2 linked regions of the Homo sapiens genome follow. The protein of the gene in region 2 purifies or fractionates together with the protein of the main gene of each other region. This does not show direct contact. Each region holds a gene or a part of one and is shown on either strand. Other genes may lie near its edges.

Region 1 (7,296 bases), on a different chromosome or scaffold from region 2:
TAGGATGATTGCTTGAGCCCAGGAGATCGAGGCTGTGGTGAGCCGTAATTGTGCCACTGCACTCCAGTCTGGGTGACAGAGTGAAAGTCTGTCTCAAAAAAAAAAATTACTCACTTAGTGTTGTTTTCAGTTTGGCCAATCAATCCCTAGCCGTCAACACAACCCAACTATCCCAAAGCAAGCCCAGTATCTAATAAGAGCGACCTTTTGGCCTCCTCCAATTATATGGCATTAATATCCATTACTTTTAAACAAGCAGAATACTAAGACCCATCGAATTGTCATGGCTAGTGCTCATACCCTCTCACTCTGTCCTACTGATACATCTATACAAAAACACATTCATCTGATCCAGGGTTCAGAACTACTATTCCCCGGCCTTGCCTTCTAACAACACCCTTTCCTTGGCCCTTTGGATCTAGCTTCTCTGGTTTCATACTCACACTCTCCCCAGCTCAACCCAATCCTGCCCTGCCCCCCAGACCCAACCCAGCTCAGCTCTTCAGGTCTGAGGTGTGGAGTCAACAAATAATTAAGCATACCATAGATAATCTGTCATTTAACAAAATAAGGCTGTTACCTGCAACATTTCTCTTCTTTGTTTTCACAGCACGTTTTAGATTTTCCATGATTGTTCAAAATTTCCTTTTCGATGTGAGAGAAGGATAGCCGCCATGTTTCTTCTTAATTTCAAAAAGAAAAACAAAAAAGCACTTTACCCAAAGCATCCATATCTAAACAATATTCAAGTGGTTTCCCTCATGAAAATATCCTGGGGCTGGGCATGGGGGCTCACGCCTGTAATCTCAGTACTTTGGGAGGCCGAGGAGGGTGGGTCACCTGAGGTCGGGAGTTCGAGACCAGCCTGACCAACATGGAGAAACCCATCTCTACCAAAAATACAAAAAAAAGTTATCCTGGCATGGTGGCACATGCCTGTAATCCCAGCTACTCGGGAGGCTGAGGAAGGAGAATCACTTGAACCTGGGAGGTGGAGGTTGCAGTGAGCCGAGATTGCACCATTGCACTCCAGCCTGGGCAACAAGAGCAAAACTCCATCAAAAAAAAAAAAAGAAAGAAAGAAAAAGAAAATATTCTGAAAAAATCTTAGGAGTGAATCAAAAGAAGTGAACAGATAAATAATTATGTATAAAAATAAGTACACTGAGACAAAAAATGGGCCTAACCGAAAAAAAAAGGAAGTCACAGTTTAATATAGTTAGCAATAGTAAGATGTATTACCTTTTATATATTGCTAAATTCCCTTTGTTAAATATTTTGTTTCAATAATAATTTGAATCAATTTATTCACTTTTTCTGTACCATCCTTACAGGTTTTATATTAATACAAAATGAATTGGGGACCATTTCCTTTATTCTTATTTATGAGAGTTTGTGTAAATATAGAATGATTTCACCTGGGCGCGGTGGCTCACGCCTGTAATCCCAGCACCTTGGGAGGCCAAGGTGGGCGGATCACAAGGTCGGGAGATCAAGACCATCCTGGCTAACACAGTGAAACCCTGCCTCTACCAAAAATACAAAAAATTAGCCGGGCGTGGTGGCGGGCGCCTGTAATCCCAGCTACTTGGGAGGCTGAGGCAGGAGAATGGCGCGAACCCGGGAGGTGGAGCTTGCAGTGAGCGGAGATCGCGCCACTGCACTCCAGCCTGGGCAACAGCACAAGACTCTGTCTCAAAAAAAAAAAATTTCTCCCCGAGTCTTACCATGGCTAGCTCTTTTATGCTCTGACCACCCTGTTACTTCGTGGTTTTATACTAGCAAAGTATAAGTAGTTTATAATCTGAATGATTTTTCAGAAAAATCAATCAATATAATCTGTCACATTAACAGAATAGAGGAGAAATACATGATTGTCTCAATAGATGAAGAAAATGAAGCTCTTAAAATCCTATAGTCGTTCATCATTAAAAAAACACCTCTTAGCAATCTAAGTCTAGATGGACACTTGATTCCATAAAAGGTAGATTTTAGAAAACTATAGCAACAATCATTATGTGAGGTAAAAAGTTGGAGAGAGAAATCAGAAAGAAGGCAAAACATCTGCTATCTCTATTTCTGTTCAACATGCACTGGGTGTCATAGCAAGCACAGTAAGGGAAGGAAAAACAGGGTTACACACTGGAAAGGGAGAAACAAAGCCATCATTATTCATAGGTGATGTAATTGCATATATAGGAAATACAAAAGAATCTACAATGCTGGGCATGGTGGTTCACGCCTGTAATCCCAGCACTTCAGGAGGCCGAGACAGGAGACCAGCCTGGCCAACATGGTGAAACACCATATCTACTAAAAATAGAAAGATTAGCTTAGCCAGTGTGGTGGCGTGTGCCTACACATACCACATGTATGTATGTATTTGTATATAGTCCCAGCTACTTGGGAGGCTGAGGCAGGAGAATCCCTTGAACCCGGAATGCCGAGGTTGCAGTGAGTCGAGATCACGCCACTGCACTCCAGCCTGGACAACAGAGCGAGGCTCCATCTCAAAAAAGAAAGAAAATGAAAAAAGAAAAAAAAAATTATGTAAATAAACTCACCAAATCAATTAAAAGAGTTACCAAGATTGTGGATACAAAAATCAAAGGTATTTTGATATATGGTAATAAACAAAAAATGAAATTTTGAGAAAGATGTTACTTACAATAGTATAAAAACTAGCAATTAGGCCAGGTGCAGTGGCTCATGCCTGTAATCCCAGCACCGTGGGAGGCCGAGGTGAGCAGATCACCTGAGATATGGGGTTCAAGAGCAGCCTGGCAAACATGGCGAAACTCCGTCGCTACTAAAAATACAAAAATTAGCCAGGCATTGTGGCACACAGTTGTAATCCCAGCTACTCAGGAGGCTGAGGCAGGGGAATCGCTTGAATTCAGGAGGCAGAGGTTGCAGTGAGCCAAGATCATGCCATTGCACTCCAGCCTGGATGACAGAGTGAGACTCAGTCTCAAAAAACAAAAACAAAAACAAAAAACAAACAAAAAAAAACACCCAACAGTTACCTTCTAGATCTAACTGCTAATGAAATATGGATGAGGCCAGGCACAGTGGCTCACTCCTGTAATCCCAGCACTTTGGGAGGCTGAGGCGGTGGATCACCTGAGGTCAGGAGTTCGAGACCAGCCGGACCAACATGGTGAAACCCCATTTCTACTAAAAATACAAACATTTAGCCGGGCATGGTGGCACAAGCCTGTAATCCCAGCTACTCTGGAGGCTAAGGCAGGAGAATCACTTAAACCTGGGAGGCGCAGGTTGCAGTGAGCCAAGATCGGGCGATTGCACTCCAGACTGGGCAACAAGAGCAAAACTCCCTCTCAAAAAAACAAAACAACAACAACAACAAAAAGAAATATGGATGAAAGCAGAACATGCTAAACGACACTTCTAGAATGCACTCTACAAACTCTCTTTGGGAAACTCTACAGGAAAAATAACCTGTTTCTTCAATGAGTAAATTGAAGTAAATTGAGTAAATTTTATTCAAGGAATAAAAAAGTTATGAAAGAGGAAGTTATGAGTTAAAAGAGATTTAACAGACATATTGGTCAGTCACAATGTATGAACCTTATTTGAATCCTGATCCAAACAGACTGATCCAAACATACAAAAAAAGTATGACACTTACAAGACAAGCGGAAATTTTAATACTGAATAGGTGTTTGATATTAGGGAATTATTACTTTTTTCTTTCATTTTTTGAGACAAGATCTCCCTCTATCACCCAGGCTGGAGTGCGTGAACACAGCTCACTGAAACCTCGACTTCCCAGCCTCAAGCAATCTTCTCATGTTAGCCGTTCCAATAGCGGGACCAGAAGCATACATCACCATGGCTGGCTAATTTTTGGATTTTTTTGTAGAGACGGGGTCTCTCCACCTTGCCCAGGCTGATCTCAAACTCCTGGGGTCCAGCAATCCTCCCACCTCCCAAAGTGCTGGAATTACAGCTGTGAGCCACTGTGCCCAGCTAATATAAGAAAATTATTATTTGTTTATACATTTATTTTTATTTATTTTTATTTTTTGAGATTGAGTCTCGCTCTGTTGCCCAGGCTGGAGTGCAGTGACACCATCTCAGCTCACTGCAACCTCTGCCTTCCAGGTTCAAGTGATTCTCCTGCCTCAGCCTCCTGAGTAGCTGGGATTACAGGCATGCGCCACCATGCCCGGCTAATTTTGTATTTTTAGTAGAGATGGGGTTTCACCATGTTGGCCAGGCTGGTCTCGCACTCCTGACCTCAGGTGACCCACCCGCCTTGGCCTCCCAAAGTGCTTGGATTACAGGTGTGAGCCACCGCTCCCAGTCATTGATTATTTTTTTAAGACAAGGTTTCACTTTGTCACCCAGGCTGGAGCGCAGTGACATGATCTCGGCTCACAGAAGCCTCAACCTCCTAGACTCAAGTGATTCTCCCACCTCAGCCCCCCAAATAGCTGGGACAACAGGTGCATATTACCACACCCAGCTAATTTATTTTGTATTTTTTGAAGAGACAGGGTTTTGTCACGTGGCCCAGGCTTGAACTCCTGGGCTCAAGTGATCCACCCACCTCAGCCTCCCAAAATGCTGGTATTACAAGCATGAGCCAACACTCCTGGCCCAGTCTCCTTTGGTACTGGTTTAAAATTTTCATAATAAAAAGTTTTGGCCAGGCGCGGTGGCTCACGCCTGTCATCCCAGTACTTTGGGAGGCCGAGGTGAGCAGATCACCTGAGGTCAGGAGTTTGAGAGCAGCCTGGACAACATGGTGAAACCCTATCTCTACTAAAAATACAAAAACTAGCCAGACACGGTGGTGGGCACCTGTAATCCCAGCTACTCAGGAGGCTGAGGCAGGAGAATCGCTTGAACCCAGGAGGTGGAGGGTGCAGTGAGCCGAGATCGCACCACTGCACTCCAGCCTGGGTGACAGAGCGAGACTCCATCTCAAAATAAATAAATAAATAAATAGTTTTAAAATAGATCAATTACCTATGAATAAATTAACAAAAGATATACAAAACCTCTGCAGAGAAAATGCTAATGAATGAAGCTGGGAAGTATTAGAGGAGATGTAAATAAGTGGATTGGGAGACTCAATATTGTTAACATATCAACTCTCTCCCATGTTTTTTTTTTTTAATACAGACAGTGTCTTGTTATGTTGCCCAGGCTGGAGTGCAGTGGCAAGATCATAGCTCACTGTAACCTCGAACTCCTGAGCTTAAGTGATTCTCTTGCGTAACTAAGACTACAAGCTACAAGTGCACACCACCACGCCTGGCTAATTTTTAAAAAGTTTTTATAGAGATGAAGACTCACAACTCTCTATAAAAACTTTTATAGAGAGTTTTTTTTTTTTAATTTTTTTTTGAGACGGAGTCTCTCTCTGTCACCAGGCTGGAGTGCAATGGCGTGATCTTGGCTCACTGCAACCTCTGCCTCCTGGGTTCAAGCGATTCTCCTGCCTCAGCCTCCCGAGTAGCTAGGACTACAGGCACGTGCCACCATGCCCAGCTAATTTTTGTATTTTTAGTAGAAATGGGGTCTTACCATGTTGGCCAGGATGGTCTCGATCTCTTGACCTCGTAATCCACTCACCTTGGCCTTCCAAAGTGCTGGGATTACAGGCGTGAGCCACCACGCCTGGCTAGAGTTTTTACACAGTGTTGTCCAAGATGGTCTTGAACCCCTCACCTAAAGCAACTCTCCTTCCTCAGCCTTCTGAAGTGCTGGAATTACAGGCATAAGTCATCATTCCTGGCCCCAAATTTATCTATAGATTCAACATTATCTCAATCAAAATTCCAAAAAGTATTTTGTGGAATCTGAAAAGCTGATTTCAAAATTTATATGAGAATGTAAAGGGTCAAGACTCTCTCAGACACCCTTGGAGAAAAACGAAGTGGTAGAACTTGCCCTAAAAGATATTGAGACTAATTATAAAGCTACATTATGTACAACAACATGGTACAAAGATAGACAAAGATTTTAATGGGACAGAATAAAGAGTTCAGGGATAGCTACACAATACGGTTGGCCCTCTGTATCTGAGGGTTTCACATCTGAGAATTCAACCAATCGTGAATTGAAACCCACAGATATGGAGGGCCAACTGTATTATATCATTTTATGTAAGGGATTTGAGCATCTGTGGACTTCGGTGTCTGCAGGGTACCCTGGAGCCAATCCTGAGGGTCAACTGTACATGACTGTAAAGAAAGGTGGCACGTACCGTTGATAAAATTTGATAAGGATGGCACTTTGCCTCTGTGACCTTCCTCCCCCAAACCAATAACTCTGATCTAATCATAAGAAACATAATAAAGAAATCTCAAGTAAAGGACATTCTACAAAATACCTAACTAGTACTCCTCAAAACTGTTAAAACCAAAAAACTGTCACAGTCAAGAGTAGCTTAAGGAGACATGACAACTAAATGCAATATGGTATCCTAAATGGGATCTTGGAACAGTAAAAGGACATTAAGAAAAACTAAGGAAATCTGGATAAAGTATATAATTTTTTTTTTTAATGGAGTCTCGCTGTGTCTCCTAGACTGGAGTGCAGTGGCATGATCTTGGCTCACTGCAACTCCACCCACCAAGTTCAAGTGATTCTCCTGTCTCGGCCTCCTGAGTAGCTGGGACTAAGTCACATGCCACCACGCCTGGCTAATTTTTGTATTTTTTTAGTAGAGACGGGGTTTTGCCATGTTGGCCAGGGTGGTTTCGAACTCTTGATTTCAGGTGATCTGCCCACCTCGGCCTCCCAAAGTGCTGGGATTACAGGCAAGACCCACTGTGCCCAGCAGATATAGCCCTTAGCTAACAATAATATATCAATATTGGTTTATTAATTATTAAATGTATTGTATTAATGTGAGATATTAATAATAGGAAAATGGGGGTGCTGCAGTGGCACGTGTCTGTAGTCCCAGTTACTTGATAAGGTGAGGTGGGAGGATCATTGAGCTCAGTTCAAGACCAGCATGGGCAACATAGTGAAACTCTGCCCCACTACCTCCCCCAGAAAAAACCCCAGGGGAATGGGTATGGGGTTATACGGGAACTCTCTGTACTATCTTCACAATTTTTCTGTAAATACAAAACTATGCTAAAACAAAAAGTTTATTTTTAAATAAACTACACTGAGATATCATTTCTTACTTTTTGAGATATCATTTTCTCACTGGCAAGAATTTCAATTGGCAAAAAGTTTAACAAGTCAGTGAGGTTGAGAGTGAAACAGGTACTCTGATACATTGCTGTGGAAAAGCAAATTGGAATG
Region 2 (4,841 bases):
CCAGTATCTTCAGTTGCAGCTAACTTTGTAGTTTCTTTTTGGGGCCTAACACACTGTATTTTACATTATCAAAGTGTAATTTACATTTATCACTATGTTAATGAGTATGTACAACATTCTTTTGCTTGGATGCATTTTGTACCTAACTCCATTAAAAGCATAACAGCATTTAAATAAAAAAGCTTCCTCAGAAGCTTCTCCCAATAACTGTCACCACTGCCACCTGTCCCTACCTTGAAGAGAGGCTGGGAAATGTATGATTTTAAGACTGAGAACAATGCCACTCCTACCATATAGGGAATCTGTACTGAAAGAAGGGGAGAACAGATATTGGGTAGATAATTACAAGTTTTTTAAAAAAACTTCTAAGGTAAAGAGTATCCCTTCAGGCCAAGTCATGCAAACATTGTGTGAGAGACACAGCTTAATCTATATTATAATTGATATATCTTACATGCAATGATAGCAATTCCAAAAGAGCTGGTAAACACATTGAATAGTGAATAAGACTTTTATGTTAATTTTTCGGTTATTTTATTTTTGAAAAATATTTCCCAAAAGAGGTAAGGAATATGATGTAGGCATAGGGGTATCCAAGGGAGAGAATACAGTCACGGGTTCTAACCGGCCAGTAAACCCTCTTCTTCATCCCTCTTTCCTGCTTATCACTAGAGACAGAAATGAAAAACCATGGCTTCAGGCTGCTAAAAGCCTAAAACAAAACAAAGTAGAGAAACAACAACAACAACAACAACAACAACGATAACAACAACAAAATAAGGCTGTTGGACAAGCAAGCTGGTCAGCCAAATCCTCTGTTGTTGTTGATGGCTTCTTGAAGCGCTTCTTCAACTGTTTCCATTGTAGAATATTTAGGGAGGAAGAGGACACTGAAACATGTCAGTGCTCTTATAGGGTCTCTTTCATTCCAACTTTCAGGACAGCAAAATGTTATTTTCATATTATTTAAATCTTTCATTTGTAGTCTGTCAGTTCCTGTAAGAAATACTAAAAAGAAGAATAAAATTAGGCAATCTGTTTTACATGGAGACCAAAATCTCTTTACAGAGAAAAAAATCTATTTATTCACAAAACTTCACTGGAGCCCATGTGCAGTGTCCTACATTTGACAGTGCATTGGGGATTGTATTCGAACAATGTCTGACACATAGTCACTGTCCTCAAGCAGCTTAAAGTCTGACTGGGAATATTAGATTCTTGTGAAGAAAAAGACACATAATAGCAAGAGAAAAGCTGTAAGGTATAAGACAGCCCGAAGAGGTGTCATGGAGTTAAGTGCCTCCTGAGTCAATGCTATGCTTGAGAATAAGGAGAGAGAGCCAGGCTGGGATGACTGAGGGGATTTCCAAGAGTTCAGAATTATGCCGGACCTTTAAGGATGGAAAGGTTTAGAAAGGCAACAAGGAGGTAGGTGAGGTTCAAGGCAGGAGAAGGAACTTCACAGAAAGGCCTGGAGGTGGGAAGGTGCAAGGTGAGCTCAGGAGTGTTCAGACAATGGGATTATTTGGTTGGGACAAAAATTTCCTCTAGGAGTTAAGACTGGAAAGGTAGGTTGGGCTTCTATTAAGTCTGAATATCTTCTAACATACATGTTATCCACAAAAATAAAAATAGAAGATAAATATTTCTCAAAAGTAAGGAAATAGAAAATGAGAAAGTCATTAAGCCTAAAGATACAAATAAAATAGCTGTGTACAGTAATAGCAAATATAGTATTAATAATATAGGAACAGTAAAAATTAGCCAAATAAAATATTTTAGTTAATCCCAAAAAGGCTGAATAAGTGAATGATGACAGGGCTACAGAAAGAAGGCTTGATATTTAGCTTGGATGAAGAAACGAAAACTTTAAAAGCAATAAGAAGGGATGAAATCACAGGGGAAAAGATTGCTTATAGATATTAACATTTGTTTTTTGATGTTGGGACACAGAGGATGTTCAGTTGGACTAGGCGTAGCTCTGACACTATGATCTGTTGCAAATGGTACTTATCATAAAGGAAATTTTTATCCCATTAAAAAGACATACGATTACAGATCTATTCCTTGATATAATACTTACCAAGGAATTTTTTCTTTTCTTCCAGAGTCAATTTGTGGAAAGCCTTCCAAAACATCACTATGGTGGGATGTGAACTGTTATATCCTGGTTCATAACGTGCATTCTAGAGAAAATACAAAAAAAAGTTATTGAGGAAATAGGAAGGAAAACTGAATTTAATCAACTTAGACTTGATGATGTACCTTTTCAAATGTTTTCCAATCATAATCTGTATTTCCAACAATCACATCCTTCAGTTCTTCGGGGTGGAATAATTTGATAATGTCTTCGTCGCACATTTTATAAAATCCTCTCCGAAATTCTTCATAAACCGCCTTTACAGAGTCGTTGAAAATGTAATTGATATACTTAGAAACATAGTCTCTCCTTTAATAAAACAAAATGTTATTTCCACTTACTGCAATATCCTGAACAAAATGGTGAGGGGCTAAAAATAAAAGCTAGAATACCTAACAGTTATTGAGTACCTACCATGTGCCATGGACTGTCATAGTTACTAGAGATTATCTAATGTAATTTTTTTTTTTTTTTGAGACGGAGTCTCGCACTGTCACCTGGGCTGGAATGCAGTGGTGCGATCTTAGCTTATTGCAACCTCCACCTCCTGGGTTCAAGAGATTCTCCTGCCTTAGCCTCCCAAGTAGCTGGGATTACACGTGCCTGCCACCATGCCCAGCTAATTTTTTTGTATTTTTAGTAGAGATGGGGTTTTACCATGTTGGCCAGGCTGCTCTCAAACTCCTGACCTTGTGATTTGCCTGCCTCGGCCTCCCAAAGTGCTGGGATTACAGACGTTAGCCACCGCACCTGGCCCTAATGTAATTTTTATAACAACTCCATCATATGCTGCTTATAACATATATAACTTAAATGTGAAAACACAGATTAAAGTCAAAGAAGGGAAAAAGATACACTATGCAAACATCAACCAAAATGAATGTGGTGTAACTATACTAAAATCAGACAAACAAGACAAGGATAGAAAAGTACATTTACTAATGACAACCGAGTCATATACCAGGAAGGTAAAACAATTCAAAAATCTGTTATGTGCTTAGTAATAACGAAACTTAAAGAAACACTCATATCCACATGTATAGTATAGATGCTAATATACCTCTCCTAGTAACTAACAGAAAAGCAGACAAAAAAATTTTTAAGGACAGAGAAGATTCAAATACAATAAATGATCCAAGAAACCTATTTAGAATATTGCAACAAGATCTCTACATAGAAAACTACCTAACATTTTTTCAAGAATGACAAAAGACGATTTAAACAAATGGAGATTCTGTATTCATGGATTAAAGCCTCATTATTTTAAGATGTCAATTTTTTCAAAAAATTGATCTATAGGTTCAGTATAATCAGTTTCAAAAATTGAAAAAATAAAACCTGATCCATACCTTGCATCTTACTAAAAAATCAATTAAAGTGGATCATAGATCTAAATGTGAGAAATAAAATGATAAGCTTCTAGAAGAAAATACAGGGGAATATATTCATAGCCCTAGGATAGGGAAGTATTCATAAAATAGAAAACAGAAAAACACTATGCATTAAGGAAAATATTGATAAAGTAGACTACATTACAATTACAAATTTTGGTTAATCAAAAGACACATTTAAAAAGTGAAAAGACAAGCCACAGTATGTAAGAAGATATCTGCAGTACATATAACCAACAAAAGACTTGCATCTAGAACTCTCATAAACTGACAAGAAAAAAAAAAGCAACAGAAAAATAGACTAAAGATGAGGAATAATTATTTCTGAAAAGAGGATATCCAAACAGCCAATAAGCATATAAAGTGCTTAACATTAGTAATCAGAGAAATGCAAATTAAAACCACAATGGAATACTACTATATACCCACCAGAATGGCTAATTTAAAAAAGACTAGTAATACTATTAGAGTGGATATAGAGCAATTAGAACTGTCGTACCCTACTGATGAAAGTGTGCCTCCATTTTTTATGTTTGCTTACTAACAGCTTTCAAGTCCCACTCCTCCTTTTTCCCCTTTCGCCTCCAAATCTGCACAACACAGGCTCACTCCCTGGGCACCCACTGATGGCTGCGTGGCTTAAATTTCCCCACGCATGCTCTGGGTTGCATGAGAACCCTGACCCTGGCCCCACGGAACCACCATAAAAACTAAAGCCACCTGCCTCTCTCTTCACTTAAGCCAAACAGATCAGCTTGGATGCCTGTGCAGCTCTCCCCAAAAAGCCCCATTATGTACTAAACATTTTCATACTCTCTGGCTTACATATGGCATCATCCATATCAATATCCAAATGAATTTCAGGTAGGAGCATTGATTCTGCCTGCATGGAGCAAGGGGCAACCACAAGGCACCAAGCACTTCTCCCAGTTACATACCAACAGAAATGCCTGCACATAAACAAAACACATGTACAAGAATGTTCACAAGAGCATTATTCATAATAGTCCAAAACTTGAAATACACTATGTCGGTCAAAAATACTACAGATAGGCCGGGCGCAGTGGCTCACGCCTGTAATCCCAGCACTTTGGGAGGCCAAGGTGGGTGGATCATGAGGTCAGGAGATGGAGACCATCCTGGCTAACACGGTGAAACCCTGTCTCTACTAAAAATACAAAAAATTAGTTGGGCGTGGTGGCGGGCGCCTGTAGTCCCAGCTACTCAGGAGGCTGAGGCAGGAGAATCGCTTGAACCCGGGAGGCGGAGGTTGCAGTGAGCCAAGATTGCGCCACTGCACTCCAGCCTGG

What was found.
Region 1: the proteins of HERC5 (region 2) and CGAS purify together in Homo sapiens (affinity purification with western blotting; 2 studies listed by BioGRID, with this or other methods). This does not show direct contact.

What each region holds. Positions count from the first base shown.
Region 1 is NC_000006.12:73,428,129-73,435,424, forward strand, and holds part of CGAS (cyclic GMP-AMP synthase), read right to left. Parts: intron 684-7,296; coding exon 581-683; intron 1-580. UniProt on the Homo sapiens protein: Nucleotidyltransferase that catalyzes the formation of cyclic GMP-AMP (2',3'-cGAMP) from ATP and GTP and plays a key role in innate immunity.
Region 2 is NC_000004.12:88,501,840-88,506,680, reverse strand, and holds the end of HERC5 (E3 ISG15--protein ligase HERC5), read right to left. Parts: intron 2,450-4,841; coding exon 2,266-2,449; intron 2,187-2,265; coding exon 2,084-2,186; intron 1,009-2,083; coding exon 803-1,008; 3' UTR 518-802; downstream 1-517.